Linked DNA regions of Homo sapiens: regions 1, 2 and 4 are each linked to region 3. The links come from fine-mapping of genetic effects on gene expression. A gene starts in region 3. Each other region holds a variant in brackets. All regions are shown on one strand. Distances are between the middles of the regions.

Region 1 (5,579 bases), 830 kb before region 3:
ACCTGATGTGGGAGGGCACGGGACCGGGCCGGAGGCTGAGGCCTTGCGGTGTTGCTGTCCTCTCCTTCTGCAGGGATCAGATTCTAAGTGGTGGTTTTTTCTTTTCTTTCTTTCTTTTCTTTCTTTCTTTCTTTTTTTTTTTTTTTTTTTTTTGAGGTGTTTTCCTAAACTTGTGCCAGCTGTGTGGTCAACCCGACGGCCTCCCTTGCTGGGACGCTCCTTTGGAGCAGCCTCTGGTGGGACAGTGGCAGAGATGCCTGTTCATCCTCAACCCGACGGCCTCCCTTGCTGGGACGCTCCTTTGGAGCAGCCTCTGGTGGGACAGTGGCAGAGATGCCTGCTCATCCTCAACCCGATGGCCTCCCTTGCTGGGACGCTCCTTTGGAGCAGCCTCTGGTGGGACAGTGGCAGAGATGCCTGCTCATCCTGGATCCATTCAGAAGCCAGCCCTGCTCACTTAAAGGGACAATCAAATAGATGAATTCCCTCCTCCTGGTTAATACAAACCTTTGCAGACTCATGTGGAGGTTCTGTCCTTAAAACCAACCATTCCCTCCAAGGGGCATGGATGGGTGGCGCTGGTTGAGCCCTCACCATAGTTGATCTACTGAAACCTGTGACTGGGCTGGGCATTGCCATGACTGATTCCTATTTCACAGGCGAGGAAGCTGAGGCTCAGAAGTGCGACCTGATGACCTGTAACTTCAGTGGCAGATCCAGTAGTCTCGACTGGTTCCCAGCAGCCCTACAGTGGGGCAGGCTGAGTCAGGTGCAGAGGTGCCCTGGCCAAGGGGACAGCCCCGGGGCGGCCCTCAGGCTCAGCCTCGTGGGCACGGATCCCATCCCCAGGCCCACGGAACAAGGAAGGGCCTGGCTCTTGGAAAACCCAGGTCCATTTGTCGAGGCAGTTGCTGACAGAGAGGAAATAATGGTTGTAATGTCAAGCTTGGGGAAAAAATCAATTTGTAGTTTTCCCAGAAAGCCTTTTAAGTAGAATGTTTTTAGAAATAAATTACATATGGGAAAGTCAGAAGCAGTGACATAATTTGTGGGGCCTGGTGCAGGATGAAAACGCGGGGGCCTTCTTCAAAAAGCATTGGGACTTCCCGAGGGCAGCAGCAGAGCATTCACCTGGTGCGGGGCCCTTCTGAGAGGGGGCCCGGGCTGCATACCCCTGAGCCTCCATGGGGAGGGTATGGGGGCCCTTCAGTGCCGGTCCTTTGGGCGTTTGAATCCCCTGTACTCGCCCCTGAGCCGCCATGGGGAGAGTGTGGGGGCCCTTCAGTGCCGGTCCTTTGGGCATTCGAACCCCCTGTTCCCGCTCCTGCCCCTTTGCACTGTGCTCCTCTAGGTTAGACGCCCTTTGGGTTTCAAGGTGGCAAGCAATGTTGTGCCTAGCTGGGAATCTAGCCACATCCTGAAAGATTGGGGTGCTTACCTCCCTCAGTATTTCAACCCAGCAGACCCCACACTGCCTGCTTCCACTCTGCACTTCTTATGGCATTAGGAGTGCCCCCGGAGCCCCACCAGAGCCTGGAAGACCATGGGAATGGCCCAGTGAGTGGCCCAGGCTACCTGCAGGCACAGAACCCGGCCAGGCCAGCCAGGCCCAAACCAGCCGCAGGGAAGGGCTCTGCTCGGAGAAGCCTCACTGCCTCCCTCGTGTGTTCCACGGGTGCAACAAACACATCTCAGATCCAAAGCCGTGGCTCCCCTCCTGCCCCCCGAACCCAGAAGTCCCTAAGCACTTGGGAGGCTCTGCCAACAGGGCTGAGGGCACAGACATGGCTTAACTGGGAAGATGGATCCACTGGGTGGTGGTGGAAAGGAAGAGGCCGCACCCAAACAGAACAACCCATGGAAAGTTCCATCATGAGACAAATGATAATGTTCATGATTACTAAGGAGGGAAAGAGGAAGGGGAGGGAGTGGGGCAGGGAGGGAGGGGGAGGGAGAAAAGGCTCGTGGGCATTGATAACCCACGAAACTCAAGCCAGGCCCCTCACCCCTTCCGATGCTCCCCAGGCACCCCCATTGCGAGGCCACACTAATACGGTAGAGGAAAAACAGGACTCTATGATGCATTGTCTCACGAAATAAAAGAATAACTTTAATTAGCGTGTCTGACCGCAGCATTATTTTATGTGCATACATACGTCTAGGCCTACATACATACATATACACATACATGTCTAGAGACAGCTTCGGTTGCCCCGTCTGGGAGCAGTGCCCTGGCATCTGGTGGGTATAGTTTGGGGATGCCGCTACACACCCCACAGTGACGAGAGGAAGGAAGGAGGGCACAGCAGAGAGCTGGCCAGGCCCAGTGTGTTCAGCGCAGGGGCTGGCCCTCCCCTCCAGAGAAGAGGCCGGTGGGTCCCAGGAAGGCCCTAGCTGCAGGTACACCCTATGCTCCAGTGCCTGGGAGTGTCTGGCTCAAGACGGATGGGTGTGAATGAACGAATGACCAAGTGGACAAATGATGCTCTGAGCACCCCCAGAAACCACTTGGAGACTCAGTGTCCCCTCCCTGCAGGGCTGGTAGACAGGCGTTCACTGGGGATGCCAGGCGTCATGCCATTTCACCTGTTTAAAGGCTGAGGTCTACATCATTGCTTTTGACTGTTCACTTTCTTTCCCCCTGAGCTATCTGCTGCTGCCTTTGTCACATGGTACAATGTGTCAGTGGAATTGTTAAAATAATTTTTCTTAGGGCCCCTTAGAGGTCTAATATTTGAAATCCGACATTTTACTTATCCTTCATTGCTTGCAATTTTTCTCTCCTCAGTAGCCATTGTGTAGAGAAGCATCACACAGCACTAACCAGGTATCCCTGCCCTGAGAAGAGAGGGAGAGGCTGACTGACTGAGCACGTGGCCGGTGATGTGTCCCAGGTCATCAGGGAGGCCCAGGCCAGCTCGGGAGGGCAGGGAGCTGGGGACCGCAACCTCACAGCCAGGTGCCCTCATCAAGAGCTCTCTGCCTACCACTTTCTCCACGGTAAACATAAAAAGAAGACACAAACCTGGAAGGAAATCGCCCTACCCCGGTCTAGAACTCAAGGAGCCAGGAGTGATTTAGAAGCAGAAGCGGGCTTCGCGGACAGGCACGCACTGCCCTCCCCACTCACGAGGCGTTGTGAGGGGTGTTTTTTAAGCCATTCTCCTCCCTTTCTGTGCAGACTCAAAAGGCAGATGCCTTGTTGGGAGTTAACAAGCCGGGTCTTTCAAAGGAGAGCTTGAAAAGCCTCATTGAGTTGGAAGCCAAGGGGCTCTGGAGTTAGACTAGGAGAGAATGGTCCCCTTGAGTGACAGAAACATCACAGC[G/A]CCATGAAAGGGGCCGAGCGAGTCGGCTGCGTGGCCTGCTGTCTCCAGTTCCTCTCCGCAGTGTCTGCATCCCTGGGAACTACCACCGGGTCATGGTGGGGTCAGGCCAACCCGGCCACATTGCTATGAAGACCAAGTTCTCCCACTTGTTTGAGCAATAGTGAGCCCCTCCAAACCCCTAGGCTGCTTAATTATGTACAAAGCCAGGCCCCCGGCCTGTGAGGAGGTGCATTCACACAGGAGCTGTCCGAGAGGCCAAGTTCAAGTCCACCCAAAGCTGTATTTTCCAGGAAAGCCCACACACCCATTTGTCTGAGATATGTGGTGGGCACCCGTTTTCCATGGGCTTTCCTTTGAACCTCTTCTGGTTTGAGCAGCGTTTTCTAGGGCTGATCCAGCAGTGTCCTTTATCCCTCCAGCTGTGCCCGTCACTCTGGGAGAAGGACACCTGCCATCTCCCCTCCCCAGGGGCTGGTGCACCAGAGATTGGTAGGAGAGGAATCGCATCAAGTCAAGAGGTTTACTCACAGACAGATTTGTTCTGCTCTGATACACAAAGGACAGAACTAATATCCATGCCCCAACCCAGAGCCGGAAACCCAGGCCCCCACTCCTGACCTCATCCTTCCCTCCTCTCTCCTCCTACTCTGTGTACTTTCGCCTGGCCTTCCTGGAGCCAACACTTTAACATCCGCCTGTCCCTGCTGGTGCCTCCTGGGTGGATGCAGTGAGGACTCCTTCCCAGGATCTGGTACCTCCTGCCCCTCGTGCGTTCATGGGAGGCCATGTGGCTGGGCACAGCTCCCAGTCCTCCCTGTCCCCAGGAGGGTGGATGGGACACTTGCTCCCACTATTCCCACTGGGTGCGACTGTCCCCAGGCCTGGGTCACATCGTGATTTGGGGGCCACCCCCATCCAGATATGCCACTTCTCGTCTAATCAGCACATACTTGCTGGCTCCCTGCTGCAGGCCAGGCATGGGGCTGGGCGGAAATGCTAATGGGGTCAGGCTCTTAGGAGGCTCTGATGTTTGTGCAGGGGGTGGGGAGGTTGCCCCAGGGCACCGTGGCTTCCTGCCTGATGCCAGGTACAGGAGGTGGCTTGGGCCTGGGTTGTGGCCATCAAGAAACCTGCTTCGGTCTCTGCCGCTGGAGGCAGGGGAGGAGGACTAAAGGAGGATCCCAGGGTTTGGGATCCACAGCAGATCCGCAGCGGGTCAGGTGGAGGGGGAAGGGAACTTGAGATACTCCACACGCTCTGCTGCTGCCCACCGTGGCCGGTGCACCCACGGCCCTGGAGGAGTCCCCAGGAGTGCACAGCTGCCTCTGGCCTCCTGTTCTCAGCATCTTCTCCTCACCTTGCTTTGAAGCCTCTGGGTCTCACCCAGCCCCAGCTTACTTCTTGCATGGGCCGTGTCCACAGTGTAGGTGTATTAGTCAGTTGGGACCAACCAAGCACCACTCCTTGGGGGCTTAAACAACAGAGATTTATTTTCTTACAATTCAGGAGCTCGAAACCCAAGACTAAGGTGTGGGAAGAGCTGGCTTCTTCTGAGACCTCTCTCCTTGGCTTGTAGATGCCATCTTCTCCCTGTGTCCTCACGGAGTCGTCCCTGTGTGTGTGTCTGTGTCCTCACCTCCTCCTCTTATAAGGACGCCAGCCAGGTTGGATTAGGCCCCACCCTAATGGCCTGATTTTGCCTTAACCCCGTTTTAAAGGCCCAGCTCCAAATACAGCCATGTTCTGACGGGATTAGGACTCAGCCTAGGAATCCGAGTTGAAGTTGAGCTCAAGCTGTTCAGCAAGGCAGCCACAGAGCACAGTCTGCCCTGGGCAGTGGTCCGCCAAGCATTGGCTTGGGGCTCCTGGTGGTGTCCCCCCCAAGCCCTGCTGTCACAGGACGAGAGGGAGCAGAGCAGGGACACGCCAGCTCTTGACCTCCATGGCTTCTGCGCATATTCCCTTGGCCGGAGCTGAGCACATGACTATGCCTCTCCAGAGGGTCTTGCCGAGTGGATCTCTGTGCACACAGGATTTGAAAGAGAGTGTTTGGAGAACTGTGTGGACTCTGTGTGCTCACCACATTCCCTGTCCAATTCCCTCCCAGCTTCCCACCGTTCTCCTCCCCGATGCCCGCAGCGTTCAGAGCAGCCTCACCTGGGAGGCAATTCGATCCGATTGGTTGGTGGTCAGGTGTAGACCTGAGGGTGGAGGGGGAGCAATATGAAGAGGGCTGAATAGGGTGCATGCACC
Region 2 (5,579 bases), 380 kb after region 3:
ACCATGTTCCTCCCACCCCATGTCTGTGCGCCCCTTCGAGCATGCCTGGGCATTGTCCATGGTACTGAACCCCTGAGGCTCCCTGGGGCTCTGGCATTCTCTTGAGCCTTTCCCAGAAATTCCAAACCAGAAGAAAAGTGCAGGGAACAGAGTGGAGGAGCCATGGACAGAGGCTGTGGGGCAGGCTCAGTCCCTGAGAGGTCGCCAAGGAGCCACAGCCTTGGACTAGATGCTCTCAAAACCTGGCAATGGCCCACAGAAGGCATCTGCTCAGGTGAGGTACATGCCACAAAGCTTCACCAGTGGGGATGAGGATCTGCTCATAGGATGGCCCCTGATGGAGGAAGTGGGAGCTCAGGCTGTGGGATCAGGCCCCTGGGTTCACAACTGTGCCTGGGTTTCTTTATCTACAAAAGGAGCCTGACAGGAGCCTCTGCCTCACAGATGAGACCTGTGTGCCTGAGGTGGTGCACACAGAGTATGTGTAGACCCCAGGACAGTCGATGTCAGCTAGAAAGTGAAGGTTAGAGGAATTCAAACCGTTATTTTTAATACTGAGCCAAAACCTGCACATCAGAGCTCTCTGATGGAGGCGTGGACGGGGTCGTGAGGGGCCAAGTACTAGCCAGAAGCTGCGCCGTCCATTTCATCCCCTCCCCACAGTGGTCCCACAGACACCGAGGTGGCTGACATGGCCCCTCCAGGTCACACGCCTGTTCTCTCTCCAGTCCTGCCCTCAGGGACTCAGAAATGCTGGCGTTCCAGGAGGTGGTGTGTGGGCTCCTCCTCAGGCCAGGTCTGTGGTCACTGCTGACCACGCGGCAATGTACGGCTTTCCAGGCCCCCATCCACCATGAGTCAGGCGTGTCCCCACTGGGCAGCAAGTCCCACAGCTTTGCATTCCAGATCCCAGCAGCATCTCGAGCCGGGCCTGGTACTGCTTAGATGCCTGGGAGGGAGGACCGAGGAAAGAGACTGGGGACTGAGGGACAGCACAGTATCCCAAGCTGGCCACTACCAGAACCTTCTAGAACAAGGTCACACTGGCAGTTCTTTATGCCTTCCGTCCTCTGCTCCCCAGACACCTGTTTACACAGGGCCCTAGGTCTCAGGTGTCCTGTGGGTGGCCGCTGCTTTTCCCTGGGTCCCTCCATGGTGTCTCCTCTGAGGACAGCCACTGGTCAGAGCCTCCTGGATGACCTCACTCCTGGAAAGCGCTGGGCTGTGTCACCTTAAAGACCCCTTTGCTCTCTTGGCCCTGGCACCCCACCTCTGGCATGGGGAGCAGAGACCCACCAGGGTTCCCATCCCTCTCCCCGCAGTGTTTCCCCAGTTCCAGGGCTGTGAGGTGGTCACAGTGGCTCTGGTGTGGCCGTGGGGTTCCTGTTCATCCCAGGGCACCTGTCACGGGACATACCCACAGCACAGGCAAGTGGAACGTTCTCTGAGTTTAGCTTTGTTTGTGTAGGTAGTTCACTGTGGGAGTCTAGCTTTTGGGGGACACACCTGAGACCCTCCCAGCTACCCTGCCCTCTCCCCAGATCAGCTCGGTAGGCTCCAATCCAGAGAGTCAGGCTGGGAGGGGAGCACGGAGCCGCCCCTGCTGGACACGTATCCCGGCCATCTCAGGCCCACCCATTGCCTCATTGCTCCCTGCCCCCGGTCCAGTCAGCTGAGTGCCCCGTGGTGTGGGTGCGTCATGCCATGGCGACCAGCCCCAAAGGGTGAGCCTTTGAGTTGTTCACCAATCATTGGGGTTTCGAACAAGCCTGTGCTGACGGCCCTGGCACACAGGGTTTCTGAATTAACTCTGCCATCGTTCCTGGCCTCAGCTGTGGTGGGGAAGGCAGTTCGGGGTCATGAGAACCCTGAGGGTTGCTCCCAAGTCAGTGTTTGCTGGGTCTAGTGGGGGCCTCTCCACCTGGAGTCTGTCTGGGAGGTTAGAAAAGACCGTCCGTGAGCCTGGGCCCTGCTGGGGCTGGTCATCTGCTCAGGGAGAGGGCGATCCCCTGCCAGCCCAGCAAGGCCACCCCAGCGGTCACCCCCTTGGGAGGGTGTGGACAGGAGCCTCCCCTCCCACCCGCCCCGCAGCCTCTGCAGCCATCTTACAAAGCCTCTGGGTTCTGCAAAGCAAAAGGGTTTTGCACCTTCCCACTCAGCACAGGCTGGCTGCGGAGCCGGGAAGCAGTGTGCCAGTCTGGGGCTGTCTCTTGATCTAAACACAATGGGATGAATTAGAGAGAAAGGCAGAATACAAAACAAGCAATTGCTCTCGAAGAGCGAGGTGAGAACGCCCTGCCTGAGGTCGAGGGGCTGAGGCCGGCTGTCTGGAGCCTGTGTCGGGGGCACCCTCCTGCTGTCTGGCTGTGCCCTCACCTGTGGGCAGGCATACCGTGTGCACCCCTCCCGCTCCCCACCTGGTCTCCACGGCCAAGCTCAGACCAACCACCCAGAGGCTGCGCCCCGGTCCAGATCCCCCTAACACACCTGCTGTTTCATTATCTAACCTTTCACTCCACCTCCGTCCTCCCCATCAAAATTACACATGCGAGGGGGCAGAGGCCAGGCTGTCCCTCCCATAGGTCCAGCCCCACCAGCCGTCGCCCCAGCGTGTCCCATCCCAGCCTCCCAAGCCGCAGTCCTGTGCCCCCCAATTTGCTTCCTTTCCCACACCCAAGGGAGCACAGTCAGTGCTCCAGGAACTGAGGCAGCACCTCTAGGCTCGCTCTTTTAGAAATGAGGCTGAGGGGCTGGACGCAGTGGCTCGTGTTTGTAATCCCAGCACTTTGGGAGGCCGAGGTGGGCGGGTCATGAGGTCAGGAGATCGAGACCATCCTGGCTAACATGGTGAAACCCTGTCTCTACTAAAAATACAAAAAAATTAGCCAGGCATGGCGGCGTGCACCTGTAGTCCCAGCTACTGGGGAGACTGAGGCAGGAGAATGGCGTGAACCCGGGAGGTGGAGCTTGCAATGAGCTGAGATCACACCACTGCACTCCAGCCTGGGTGACAGAACAAGACTCCGTCTCAAAAAAAAAAAAAAATACAAAATTAGCCAGGCATGGTGGCACATGCCTGTAATCCCAGCTACTCAGGAAGGCTGAGGCAGGAGAATCACTTGAACCTGGGAGACGGAGGTTGTGATAAGCAGAAATCGCGCCACTGCACTCCAGCCTGGGCAACAAGAGCAAAGCTCAGTCTCACAAAAAAAAAAGAGAGAAATGAGCCTGAGGCCCAGGAGGACCTGCCGAGCTCACAGCTGGCCAGGGA[A/G]CAAGCCAGGCCCCCACTTCTGGCACCAAACCCCAGGCATTCGGCTGCTTCTGAGAGGCTTGAGGCCCTACCAACCACTCAAACGCCATTCCCAGACCCAGACAGGGCTAGGAGGCAAGGGGTAGCAGCTGAGGGGTGCACACAGCAGAGGATACTGCCAGAAGCACGAATGAGATTCCCATGGAGGCAGCCCCACCTCCAGACCACCACGGCTGTCACAGCAGACACCCCTGTCTCCCACCATGACCTTCTGCTCTGGAACATCCACCCCTAAAACCTCAGACCCAGCCACTGAGGCCCATGGCCCAGAGCCCAGCTACCCAGCCGGCTCCAGGGAGGGTGGCCCAGCCAGTTCCTGCCACCTGAGGATGTTGGTACACACACCAGACTCAGAGGGAGACCCAGACAGACAGCAACACAAAGACAGAGAGAGAGACACAGAGAGGAAAGCAGAGACACAGAGAGACATGGAGAGAGACACAGAGACAGAGAAACAGACACATAGAGGAAAACAGACACAGGGAGACACAGAGACAGAGATACAGAGACACAAGAAAACAGAGACAGAGATAGAGACAGAGACACAGAGATATAGAGATAGAGACACAGACTCAGGAAAACAGACAGAGAGAGACACAGGAGAACAGAGACACAGAGATACAGAGATAGAGACACAGGAACAACAGAGACACACAGACAGAGACAGACACAGGAAAACAGTGAAAGACAGAGACACAGAGGAAAACACACAGATATACAGAGAGAGACACAACAGAGACAGACACAGGAAGGAAAACATACAAGGAGACAGAGACACAGAAAAACACAGAGAAAAACACAGAGACATCACAGGAGAAAGATACAAAGACAGACAGAGACACATATTCTGCCTCGCCTCCAAATCCAGCTTGGCGTGGACCTCGCTGGGACTGGATGGCCTTCTCTACAGCTGCTGAACAGCCTCGCCGTCCCCAGGGCTTCCCTGCTGTTGGCCATGACCCTCCCCTGCTGCTTGGAATTGCAAAGCCAGGCGGTCTGGGAGTCCCAGCCACCACGCGTCCCCCAGAATATTCATGGGGCTGGGCCAGGTGACTCCCTGCTCTCTTTAGAGACAAATCGAAAGGCGCCAGGGTGCTGTGGCATCAGTGGCGCTGAGGCATCCTCTGGCCGGCCCTGCATGGCCTTCAAGCTGCTTGAGTCCATTGGACAAAGTCCCTCAAGGCCACCCTATGTGGCCAGGGCTGAGACGCCTAGAGAGGTAGACGCTCAGCCTGGGCAGGGACGGGGGCCACACTAGCAGAGGTCAGAGAAGGGGTCAGCCAGGGGGAAGGTCAAGGCTGCCGCCCGGCGGGTCACCACCAGGCCCCCACACTACCCCAGCCTGGCCGTCTGCTTCCTGTTCAGTTCTCACCCCCTGAGTTCTCAGGTCTGTGAGTTTGCTGGACCGTCTGCCAGGAGAGCTTAGGGTCCCTGTAGGCTTGTGGGTGCCATCAGGTCAGAGATGAGAAGTCACCTCCAAGCAGAGGCCTTCCCGGAACCCCCAGCACTACTGCAGCCAGGCTGCCGCCAGCATCGCTGTGTCTGTAGCTCTTATTGGCCCTGAAGTCACTGCAGGTGGTTCTTTCAGTGGTCTCTCCTCCCCAGGATCCAAGACCTCTGACGGCAGGGGCTCCTATGGCTTCTCCAAGGCAGTGATGTTTGTGGGAGGGAGGAAGGGAGAAAGGTGGAGGGAAGCTAGACTAACCAAGAAAAAAGAGAGAAGACATAGCTAAAATCAGATATGAAAGAGGAGACTTTACAAGATGCCACAGAAATCAAAAGGATCATAATAAACTGTGAACAATTTTATACAAACCAGCTGGACAGCCTGGAAAAAATGGATACATTCCTAGAAACTCACAAGCTTCCTAGAGTCAATCGCGAGAAATGGAAAATCTGAAAGGACCAATAACAAAGAAGGAGATTGAATCAGTTACCAAAAACCTCCCAAAAAAGAAAACCCCAGGGCAGGGCCAGGTTGCTTCGCCGATGGATGCTACAAACATTTAAAGAAGAATTAACACCAGTCCTTATACAATTCCGAAAATGTGAAGAGGAAGGAACACTTTCTAACTCATCTTACAAGGTCAGCATTACCCTGATACCAAAGCCAGAGAAGGACGCTATGAGAAAAGAACCAAGAGGCAAAAATCTTCAACAAAATACTGGCAAACTTCATTCAACAGCATGTTGAAAGGCTCATCCACCATGAGCAGGTGGGATTTATCCCTGGGATGGAAACACAGTTCAGCACATATGAATCAGTAAA
Region 3 (5,553 bases):
TCCAAGCTGGCTCTGAGGCATGGAGCACCACAGCCCACAGCTGCCACTGAAACTGTGGCCACTTCCCAGGCTCCTCGGGCCAAGCTCACAGTCTCAGGTGAGGGGGGCCAGCACGCTGTGCCCATTTTAAAGACAGCTTGAGGCTGACAGAGGGAAGCCACACAGCTGAGGCAGAGGAGAGGGGCGTTGACTACAGGCTGGCCCTTTACTCACGAGACGGGGGTAATAAGCCCCCACAGAGGAGACAGATCTGAGAGGGGGCCTGTGGCCCCCAGCCACGCAGCATGGGCAGGCTGTGGGGGGGTGGTCTGAGGTTCACAGGGCACCTGGAGCCTCCCCTGCCAGAACGGCAAAATCTCAGCTGGGGACACTCAGCCAGGCCCTCTGTGGTGAGGTGTGGCAGCAGGTAAGGAGACAGTCACAGGCCCTCCGTCCTGAGACCCGGCCCCTCTGAGTTGACCAGATAAGGGGGCAGCCAGGAGGCACCCAGGTTCCCACAGCTAACCCCCGCTGGACCCTGTTCTGGCTGGGGGGCTCCAAGCAGGTGTCAGCAGCTTTCCAGGGCTCAGATCCCCCATCTGAAGTGTGGGCTTGAGACCTCCTATCTCAGAGGACTGTGCTGGGCTTAAGGAGAGAACGGTGAGCCCAGAAGCCTGGGGAGGCTCCTTCCCCCTCCACCAGGGCCAAGGGGGTGGGGCAGGCAGAGGGGGCGGGCCCAGCCCAGGCTCCTCCATTCATCCCCATAACGTCTTGCTCCAGGGCCCTCTGCCCCCACCCAGCAAATCTCCAGCTACTCGCCCCTGCCCCAGCCTCTCCTTCCGGGAAGGCAGAGGTACCAGGGAGGAGACAGCTCAGGTTACACAGGCCCTCAGGGCCCCTAGACTCTCCCTAAGGTGGGGCTGAGGTGGGGAATGGGCCTAGAGCGGCCGGTTGGGAGCCGTTGGAGCTGACTTTGCTGCTCCTCACCCAAGGCTGACCCCAGGCCCAACCTAAGTCTACAGGGCCCCAAGAGCCTTGGTTTTCAGGTGAGGTGTCCATGCATGGAGTCCACCAACAGAACCCGCCTACAGGTTTAAGGCTTGTTGGGGAGGGGACATGCACCCCAGGGGGTCTTCAGGGCCTGAACCCACATCTCCCAGGGAGACTGAAGCCCCCGGACCCTACCACCTGCTGGGCAGAGATGCTGCCCCTCCTGGGAGCCACGTGTTCCCAGCCCCAGTCAAAACTTCGCAGCTGGCCCTCCCCTACTTTGGAGGTCTCCTCGAGTCCCTAGACTCCTCCGAGAGGGGCTAGTGGGAGCCTCAGGTGGCTGGCCCCTCCCACCCCATCCAGAGGCCAACAGGTTCCAGCCTGTCCCGGGTAGGGCGGAGCTGCGCCCCCTCCCCACCGGCAGCAGGCGGCGGAGGCCAAGTCCCGCCCTCCCCGGGATCCCGGACTTGGGGCCGCCAGGGACTGGGCCCGGCCCCCCTCCCGCCCCGGTCACCGCAGTCGAACTGGACCGGCGCCCAGCCGCCCCCGGGTCCATGCCGGGGACTTTAATTCCGCCTTCCCGGAGGGACGCGAAGTTTCCCGGCCGAGACGGAGCGGCCGGGTCGGGGTGCCTTCTTGGGCCCCCAAAATGCGGAACCAGAGAGTCCGCACCTGGACTCGCCCCGGGCCACGGCGCTCCCCCTGGGGTCGGGCCGGTGTTCCGGGTCCGAGTGCCCCGGGAGGAAGCCCCACGGCCCGCCCCTGCGCTCACCCGGATGGTCTGGTTGGGGTCGCCGCCGGCCACGGGGCCCCCTACCAGCTTGCAGTAAAGGTCCTCGGTGGGGCGCGGGGAGCCGCGCGCCGGGGCCTCCTCTCCGCAGGTCGCGGAGGCGGCGATGCGGGCGCCCTCGGCCAGGTTGAAGTAGGGCGGGTGCAGGCTGAAGCCGCCGCCCGCCTCCTCCCGCGCCCGCGCCGCGCCCAGCAGCGCCAGCCCGACCAGCAGCAGCGGCGCGGGGCCCCGGGGGCCGCGAACACACAGTGCGCTCCCCGCGCAGAGCCGCTTCGCCATCTTCCCGGCTCCGGGCCGCGTCCCCGAGCTCCAGGGACAGCGCGCGCGGCGGGAGCCCGGCGGGTCTGAAGCCAGGCGGCCGGCAGGGCTCGCTCCGCCCGCGGACGTCAGGCCCCGCCCCGGCCCGCCCGAGCGCCCGAGCCCCGAGCCCCGGGGAGAGGTCCGGGGAGGCGGGGTGGGGGGGGGAAGGAGAGAGGAGGGGGAGGGGCGGCCGGGCGGCCTTAACCCTTCGGACCCCGGCCCGGCCGCCTCCCGGAAGGGGCACCTGCTGGCCTCGGGCCAGGCCGTGGGACGACGGCGCCGCCGGGCCCCCAGCCCAGGTCGTAGCTCCGGGTCCCGGGTGGGACCCTAGCGCTCCCCACGACGCCCTGGCCCCCAGAGCGCCCACCAGCTCCTCCCAGCCCAGGGGCCCACTCTTTGTTCCCCTAACTTGGGTGCACCACTCGGCTGCCCCCGCTCCTCCCCCAACAGCGTCCGTCCTGCTGGCTGCGGGAAGGTGCCCTCTGCACCCGCGAATGACCATCTGCAGAGGAACGGGGCAGCCTAGGTGGGAACCCCCTGCTTCCTGGGGCAGCCAGGTCAGGTTCAACTCGGCCTGGCTCCCGCCTGCCCCAGCAGGGCTTAAAAATACTCTCAGATAGGGAAATAGGGGCAGGAGGGACTGGCCTGCAGCTGCAGCCCCCTTTAGAGGACGGGGGCGGTGCTCATGGCCCCACAGCCGCCAAATTGGCTCTTAAGGAGGTCGGGGGCTCTGGTCACAGCTGCTGAGCACCTGCTGGGTGCCTGGAAGCACCTGTGCTCCGGGGCCCGGTGGACTCCACCAGCTCTCTCGGCCTGGCCTCCAACCCGCTGCACAGCCGCGCACGCGTTCCTGCCACGATCGGCGGCTCGAGGACGCCTGGCAAACAGCACAGGACCTAGAGGCCGAGATCAGGTCTTCGTCTGCCTTTGGGTGGCTGCGGCCCTGGGTCTCCTACTTCCCTTGGGCTCCGGGGCCAAATCTGCCTCCAGGGAAGCCCCGAGGGGGTGGCGGCGGGGTGGGGCTGCAGCTGCCGAGCTGGCAGCAAACCCCCATCCCTGAGCCAGGCCAGCTGGGCGGGCCATGGTCCCAGATGGGCTGTGGGGCTCATCTCTCGCTGGGTTCCCTGGACAGTCCCGGGGGGCTGGGTGGGTTTGTGGGGCACTGGCCAGCCGGTTCTGGTGGGGGTTCTGAGCTAGCAGCTGTCCCTGGAGGGTGCACCTCCTTGCACACCTTCCTGGCGCCCTGGCCTCCTGCAAATCTCAAATCCCAAGAGGGTGTATGGCCCTTTCTCTACGGAGTCGGGAGGGCGATGGGACCCTCTCTCCCTCCTCCTACTTTCCGGCCCGGCAATTCTTCCATAACTTCACTATTAGTTCTCCCACCTGGGGGAGGGGGGAGAGGAGGCGGCTCCCCTTGGCAGGAGAAGCTCCAAGTGGGGGAGGGGCTGGCTGGAGAGGGGGCGGAGACATCAAGGAATCTGCAGTCCAGGCGCAGAGTCCGGCTCTGAGCTGCTTTAGATCCCGTGTGAGGCAGAGAGTGGCCTCTGGGCAGTAGCGGGTCCCCAGGTGGGGGCTTGGCCCCAGGCAGTGTGCTCTGGCTCTGGGCTCCCCCTTGACAGCTTGGGGCTCTGACAGCCTGGGGGACTGGAGGTGGAGACTCCTGAGACCCTGAGGGCTTCTTGGGATCCCTGGAGGGTCGGGTGGTTGGAGGGGTGGGATTGCGAGTGGCGGGGCAGGGGGAGAGGTGGGGGTGGGGAGAGCACTTTAAGCCTCCTAGCGGCCAGATCAGGCCAAGCTGCCAGGCCTCCGCTGTCCCCCGGCACTGGCCAGGAGGGGAGCGGGGGCCGGCCCTGAGAATGCGCTGTGTCAGCCGGAGCTGCCAGCACCAGCAGGGTTAATCACCGGGCTCACTGCTTCCCGGCAGACAGCTGCCCCGGGAGCAACTGGCAGGCAGGCGGGCAGCGCAGTGGACAAGAGAATGTGGCCCAGGGGCTGGGTAAAGAGCCCACACTCTGCCCCCACCCTGTGTCTGCTGGTGCACGGACTGGGAAGGAGGCAGCTGGGGCAGGAGCTGAGCGTATGGAGGGCGGGGGGGCTGTCCCAGCCGGGCTACACACAGGGGGTTGGGGAGGTGAGCAGGGAGAGGGGCAGCTCATCTCTGCACACCCCCACCCCTGCTGTCTTTGTCATGGTTCCAGTGAGTCATCACCAAATGGACCAGCGAGCCTGTCTCCTTGTCTTTCTGAGTCCTGCGCAGCCCAGCCACCTCTTCTATTTACAAATGGGGAAACTGAGGCCAAAAAGGCCAGGGTCAATCAAGAGCACACAAGTTAGTAAAGCAAGAGGAAGTTTGTCCATCATTCATTTCTTACTCCTATTTACTGGGCATCTTTCGGGCACCCGCCCGTGACGTAGTCCTCCTCCCTGCAACAGGTCAGACGGCACCCCACCCCCAAACACGTCCTGTCCTGAATCCACAGGAGGGAGCTGCCCAGTCTGGGAGTGGAGGGGAGGGTAAAAGGAGGTGGCTCGCCAGGGGAGGGCCGTGGAGGAGCCTCTGTCCCACCAGGCTCTGGCTGCCCTCCAGGGACAATCCAAGATCCAGAGCCCCTGCCCACCCAGCTCCAGGGTGATGGAGCCCCAGAGGAGGTGGGTCGGGGGCAGGGGTCAGTGGCAGCCCGAGAGAAGTAGGGGCACTCCTGGCCCTGGGGAAGGGGTCTCAGATCCTCCCCCAGCCCTGGGACAAGGTCTGCTGCGGAGCCCTGGGGGCAGCCACCTCACCTGAGCCCCCAGTGCTACTCCAGTGGCATTCCTGAGAATGCCCCCACCCTACTCGGCCACACCTGCAGGCAGCTGTGGGGGACCCTGAGGGTAGGCCACAGGCACATCTGACTCAGCCGTGAGTCGTGAACTCCTGACCTTGGGAGCCTCCTGGGGACACCGCTGTGCTGAGGACATGGGGCACCCCCACGCCCACACTCAGCTGCATCACAGGCAGCCACAATCAGTAACAGATGACTCTGCAGACCCTCCTGTCCCAGAGCCCAGGGTCCAAGTGGGTGCTGTACCCTCGGGAGAAGCCCCCAAGAGGAAGCGGGGGCTGAGCAAGAAGGAGGGCTGGAGGCTGGGCTCCTGCTAGGGCCGGGCCTGCGGGTGAGGCCTTGTGGCTCCCACTCCAGAACTGGGAATGTTGTCTCAGCGGGATGAGGTCTGGAGGAACGCCAGCGCTGTGGTTTGGGATATCGGAGGCCACAGTCCCTTTCTCAGGGCTGCTGGGATGCCCTTCCGTGGAGCCGGCTGGTAAGAACCTCCATCCCTGTCCATGAAATAGAGAAGCTGGGAGCGGGCAGCAAGGCTGGTTCTGAACTGTTCGCGTGGGCCAGCTCAGTCCTCTGGGAGGAGGACACAGAACAGCAGGTGCCGGGAAGACAAGGTCTCATCAGGATTGCATAAACCCAGCGGACTGGGAGAGCTTCTGGGCCTCTTGGCCTAGG
Region 4 (5,000 bases), 37 kb before region 3:
TGGGGTACTCACGCCTGCAGTTGGGGAAGCCCCAGTATCCGGTGGCACAGCGGGAGCAGTCACGGCCAATGACATGGGCATGGCAGGGACACTGGCCCCCGAAGGGCTCACACGTGGGGCCTGTAGCACCTACTTCGTGGCAGCCACATGGACGGGCTCCGTTGTTATAGAAGAGGGAGAGGGAAGCAGCAGCGTTTCGGCAGAACAGGGATGAGCTGCTGGGGCTACATGGAGGGGCACGTGGTGAGGCCAGCTCCCGGCCCAGACCCCCACCCCGGACCCCTGACCTGCCAGAGCCCTGCCCACCTGATGTGGTAGCCCTGGGCTGCGCAGTGGCTGATGAAGTCATAGGATTTATCCAGGGGCTCCTCCCGGAGGTAGCCAAAGCTGTAGACGTTCTCAGGGACCACGAGTACATAATCCTAGGGGGTGAGGCCTGGTCACTCTCCCGCGGGCCCAGAGCCTGCAGCGGGGAGGCCCCCAGAGGCTGGCTGGGACCAGGGTCCTGCAGGCAGCTCAGAGTCCTGGCAGCAGCAGCCCAGCCCAGCCCAGCCCAGCCCTGGGCCCTGGCTGCTCAGGGGAGGCCACTCCAAGCCAAACAGCAGCTTTCGGGGGCATGAGGAGGCAGCAGCATTCATGAGACCTCCTGGTGTCTCCCACATCTCTGTCTGCTGGCCACGCCTTCCTCTTCCCTCTCCTTCCTGGAGGCCCCACCTCCTCCAGGAAGGCCACCCTGACCAGCAGGGTGCAGGGTGCAGGGTCCAGGGCCCCTCTGGAGCCTCACAAGGTGGATCGGGAGGTCCCCAAAGGCAGGAGCTGCTTTGCTGGGCACAAGGCCAGGCCTCAGCAGGCCCAGAAGAGACAGACCCAGCCCAAGTGTACCACAGTGGTAATGACAAGTATAAGGACAGCTGGTCCCTGAGCAGGACATCAGCTGGGACTCACCAGCCAGAGCCACCGGCCCTTGGGCACACGCACGGTCACAGTGAGCTCGCTGTGGGTCACGTCCAGCAGGGCCTGGCCCTCACACACCACCAGGGTGCGGCAGCCGTAGCCATGTGGACAGAAGCTGGCGTTGGCGTGGCCTGGGCGGGGGAGAAAGGCAGGGTCAGGCCCCCATCTCTAGCGCCCCCAAGACACCCAGAGGGTTGAAGATGGCAGCGTTGGGGCAGCCAAGGAGTGCCCGCTGGCCAACGGCCACAGGCACGGGACGTGCCCAAGAGGTCTGCAAGGCCGGCCCCTCATGTCACGGGGGTTGGCCGCATCATGACCTACAGATGTCATGCGGGACACCTCTAGGTACCGGTCAACTCCATGTGCGGGACCCCAGGCTTGGCCGAGCCAGGAACCAGACAAACACACAGGGCCACATGTGCTGCCAGCGGCATCCTGGGGCAAGCCCTCAATTCGCCACGTGCCATGGAGCACAACGGGGCTTCCCAACGCACGAGACAGAGGCGAGACCCAGGCTTTTCTGGGAACGGGAGCGGGCGGGTAGGGGCTGCGGGCTGCAAGGGCAGCTAGTTTGAGAACTGATGGCAGGACAGAGTCATGTTGCCTGTCGCTCATAGCAGGTAGCACAGGCCACGCTGTGGCGCCGGCATTCCAGCCTCATCGTGTGTGGTAGCCTCTCCACCCCCCACACCAGACACTCACCCTGCCACACGCGGCCGGCGTTGATGAGGACTTCCACGGGGAAGGTGGGGTGGGCTGGCTGGTAGCCGTGCAGCAGGAAGGCATAGCGGCCCAGCGTGGGCACATGGGTGGTGAAGACCACGGTGGCCTGCAGGGATAGGCCCTAGTGAGCAGGCTGAGCTATGAGCCCCTGCTGCCCCCTGGACAACCTGCCCTGGGTTGGGACCCGGAGTCCTGCCCTGACACCCCCGTCCCTCTAGAGACTATGGCCCTCACCTGGGGCTCACGCAGCAGGGTGGGCTCTGCATCAGGGTCCACAGCGGTGGGGGGCCGAGGTCGGGGTCCAGCTGGGGACATGGCTGGAGTGAGATCCTGCGCGTGGGTCAGCGGGAGGCCGGGCGGCAGCGGGATCACCTGGCAGTCCCTGAGGATGATGGGCTGGGGCGGCTTTGGGAAGCGCGAGGGCAGACAGGCGGCACTGGTGAGAGCACAGTGGGTGAGTCAGAGCCGGCCCTGCCGCCGGGCCCTCGGCCGCGCCCCTCCCAGCCCCATTACCTGCCATTACCTGTTGGGGCCAAAGGCGCCGTGGCTGCTGATGCAGCTGACCCGGGGCTCCACGAACTCCGGGCTGAACTCCTCAATGGGCACCAGAGTGACCCCGTGCTGCAGGCAGAGGGACGAGATGCTGCAACGCCCGTGGTGCGGGGAGGATAGGGGGTGCAGGCGGTACGATGGGGGGGTGCAGGCGGTACGATGGGGGGGTGCAGGCGGTACGATGGGGAGTGCAGGCGGTACGATGGGGGGGGTGCAGGCGGTACGATGGGGGGGTGTAGGCGGTACGATGGGGGGTGCAGGCGGTACGATGGGGGGGCCGGTCACACAGCTCAGACCCAGGAAACTGCAAACCCAGGCGTCCGACCGAGCCCTGCTCTTTCCAAGATGCCCTTGCTCCTCCTCCAGCTGCACAAACCCCAACCGCAGACCAGCGTGTTGGCCAGTTCCTGGGCCCACAGGCCTATGCGGCTCCTCCCATAGCCCTCTTCCTCCCCCTCGCCCTCCCATCCGTCACTGTTCCCCCACTCTTATCTCGAGTGCTGCTTGGTGCCACCAGGCCGGGCCAGGCCCAGCTCTCCCAGGACCTGACCCAGGCAGGCACTCAGCAGGCACAAGCCGCAAATGGGTGCTCCCTTTCCGTGCGGCCATGTGAGGTTGGTGTCTCGGAACACGGCAACTTATCCGCTGACACAACGGTGGGAGACGCGGCTGCACAGAACATGTTGTGTGGCATTTATAGAAAGT[G/T]CCAGGCCAGGTATGGTGGCTCCTGTCTGTAATCCCAGCATTTTGGGAGGCCCAAGAGGGCGGATCACCTGAGGTCAGGAGTTTGAGAATAGCCTGGCCAATATGGTGAAACCCTGTCTCTCCTAAAAATACGAAAATTAGCCAGGCGTGGTGGTGAGTGCCTATAGTCTCAGGTACTTGGGAGACTGAGGCACGAGAATCGCTTGAACCCAGGAGGTGGAGGTTGCAGTGAGCCAAGATCTTGCCATTGCGCTCCAGCCTGGGCGACAGAGTGAGACTCCATTTCAAAAAAAAAAAAAAAGAAAAGAAAGTTCCAGAACAGGCAACCAACGCTGTCTGTGCCAGGAGGTGGCTGCCCTGGGGCCAGGGAGCTGTGACTGCAGGTGCTTTCCTGAGCACATGGAACAGCTCGGGGGTACGTCAAAAGGGACTGAATCCACAAAACGCTTGCAGGAGGGGTTCCAGAAGAAACATGCTGGGCTGGGCATGAGCGAGTGTGGCCGCCTTGGGGACCTGGGACCCCAACTGTCCTCTCCCCTCTCATGCATGTTTCAAATCTTCTGAAAGAAGCTGACCCCTTGGGGTGGGGACCTGAGGGGTCCTTACCAGGAAGAAGCGTGCCTGTTCGGCTGTGAGCCTCACGCTGGCCTCCGAGTCCAGGTGGAAGACAGCCAGGTGGTCCTGGGTATCCCGGGCAGTGCCCCGGCACAGGGTGCTGTGGGGGGAGGGTGGTCAGCAGGTGGGGCAGCCCCGGGCGTGCCCTTACTCCAGCCCCACCGGCTCCCACTCACCTGTACAGGCAGGGGTGCAGGGAGAGCAGCCCCTGCTGGGGGGCCCGCTGTGGGGTGTGCACGGCCACGCCCACCTCCTGGCGGGCATCCTCATTGGCGTACTCCACCACTAGGGCATAGCGGCCTGGCTGTGGCACTGCCACTTGAAGCTGGACGTCCACCTGCAGGGAAGGCAGGGTGACGGGAGGCCCGCCACCCCTCGCCCTTCCCACCTCCCTCCCCTCCCACTCCAGCGCCTCCCTGACCCCAGGGCCTGCCCTTCAGCCGAGTCCCACCCTGGCCCGGACATCTCCAGGCAAGTGGTGGGGGCTGAGCTGTATGTGGAGGCCACAGCCAATCCTACATACAGACAGGCACTGAGGTCACACATGCAGGAGGCAGGAGGCAGGAGGCAGGGGCGCCCTGCCTGGGTGCTGGGCTCCATTGCCTGAGGCAGCGCCCTGCTCCTATAACCTGCCACCGCCACAGGACCCCCAGCCCCCAGGCCAAGGTCCTGCAACACCCATTGCTCCGTGGGGTCCCAGGACACGCACATCACTGCCCGTGCAGGTGATCAGTGGCGGGTGCGACGGGCTGAGCTGCTCCGTGGGGCAGGGCCGGGGCAGGCTGTTGTCCTGGCGACACAGGGCCTCCAGCCCGGCGGCCGAGGGGAAGCCATCCAGGGGGAGGTGTGTGTAGAGGAGGCAGCTGGGGGGACACAGGCCGTGGTCAGCCCCAGGTCCACCCAGGTCCCCAGAGACAGCCTGAGTGGGGGAAGCCAGGCACAGTGGGGGTCCAGGAAGCCCCCACCCCGGTCCCACCGCACGCATGGCCCTCACTTGTCGCCAGACTGCTGGGCAGAGGGACGGTATGTGCAGGCCTCAGTCACCCGCAGCTGCAGGAGCGCCGCCTCGTAGTATGCGCTAGGCAGCAGAACCACGTAGTCCTGCAGGGTGGAGGTGGTGCTGAGAGTGGTGGGCCCCACCCCCTGACCCGGCCCCCAGCCCTCACTCTGGCCCCTGCCTCACCAGGAGCACCCCTTCGGCCTCCACACGCAGGGCCCAGGTGCCAGGGTTCAGCACAAAGGGCTCTCCGAAGCCCCTCTGGGGCACGGTGATGAAGGCAGGCTCCGTGCTGGGTGGGAAGGCCACGGGCTGACTCTGTGCTGTGCCTGGGCGGGGGCAGGGGTGAGACTCCTGAGCCCAGCCCTTGGGGCCACCCCAGGCTGCACCCCCTACAGGGTTGGGGATAGGCTGGTCCTACCACCCACATGAGCCAGAGGAAGGTGGCGGGGCT

Evidence for each region. PIP is the estimated chance that this variant, and not a neighbour inherited with it, causes the effect.
Region 1: its variant is fine-mapped to the expression of LAMA5 in sigmoid colon (GTEx, PIP 0.97).
Region 2: its variant is fine-mapped to the expression of LAMA5 in monocytes after LPS (Quach 2016, PIP 0.95).
Region 4: its variant is fine-mapped to the expression of LAMA5 in sigmoid colon (GTEx, PIP above 0.99). The same link has a PIP of 0.9 or more in skeletal muscle and visceral fat.

What each region holds. Positions count from the first base shown.
Region 1 is chr20:61,534,535-61,540,113 of GRCh38, forward strand. The region is part of intron 2 of CDH4 (cadherin 4); the gene reads left to right. Among named protein-coding and RNA genes, the nearest start is that of CDH4-AS2, 180 kb to the right of the region's middle. RefSeq lists an enhancer at 3,854-4,833. The variant G/A (reference allele first, on the strand shown) is at 3,327.
Region 2 is chr20:62,741,525-62,747,103 of GRCh38, forward strand. The region is part of intron 1 of NTSR1 (neurotensin receptor 1); the gene reads left to right. Among named protein-coding and RNA genes, the nearest start is that of NTSR1-AS1, 9.0 kb to the left of the region's middle. The variant A/G (reference allele first, on the strand shown) is at 3,272.
Region 3 is chr20:62,365,208-62,370,760 of GRCh38, forward strand. LAMA5 (laminin subunit alpha 5) reads right to left here and starts at 2,105. Exons shown (of 80, transcript NM_005560.6): 1 at 1,742-2,105. The coding sequence starts at 2,038. RefSeq lists enhancers at 1-211, 910-1,609, 3,708-4,407 and a silencer at 1,789-2,228.
Region 4 is chr20:62,328,832-62,333,831 of GRCh38, forward strand. It overlaps LAMA5 (laminin subunit alpha 5), which reads right to left. Exons shown (of 80, transcript NM_005560.6): 24 at 4,733-4,875; 25 at 4,544-4,650; 26 at 4,259-4,412; 27 at 3,726-3,886; 28 at 3,541-3,649; 29 at 2,201-2,298; 30 at 1,912-2,113; 31 at 1,657-1,783; 32 at 946-1,085; 33 at 307-422; 34 at 13-224. It overlaps MIR4758 (microRNA 4758), which reads right to left and starts at 3,726; the gene lies at 3,656-3,726. The variant G/T (reference allele first, on the strand shown) is at 2,935.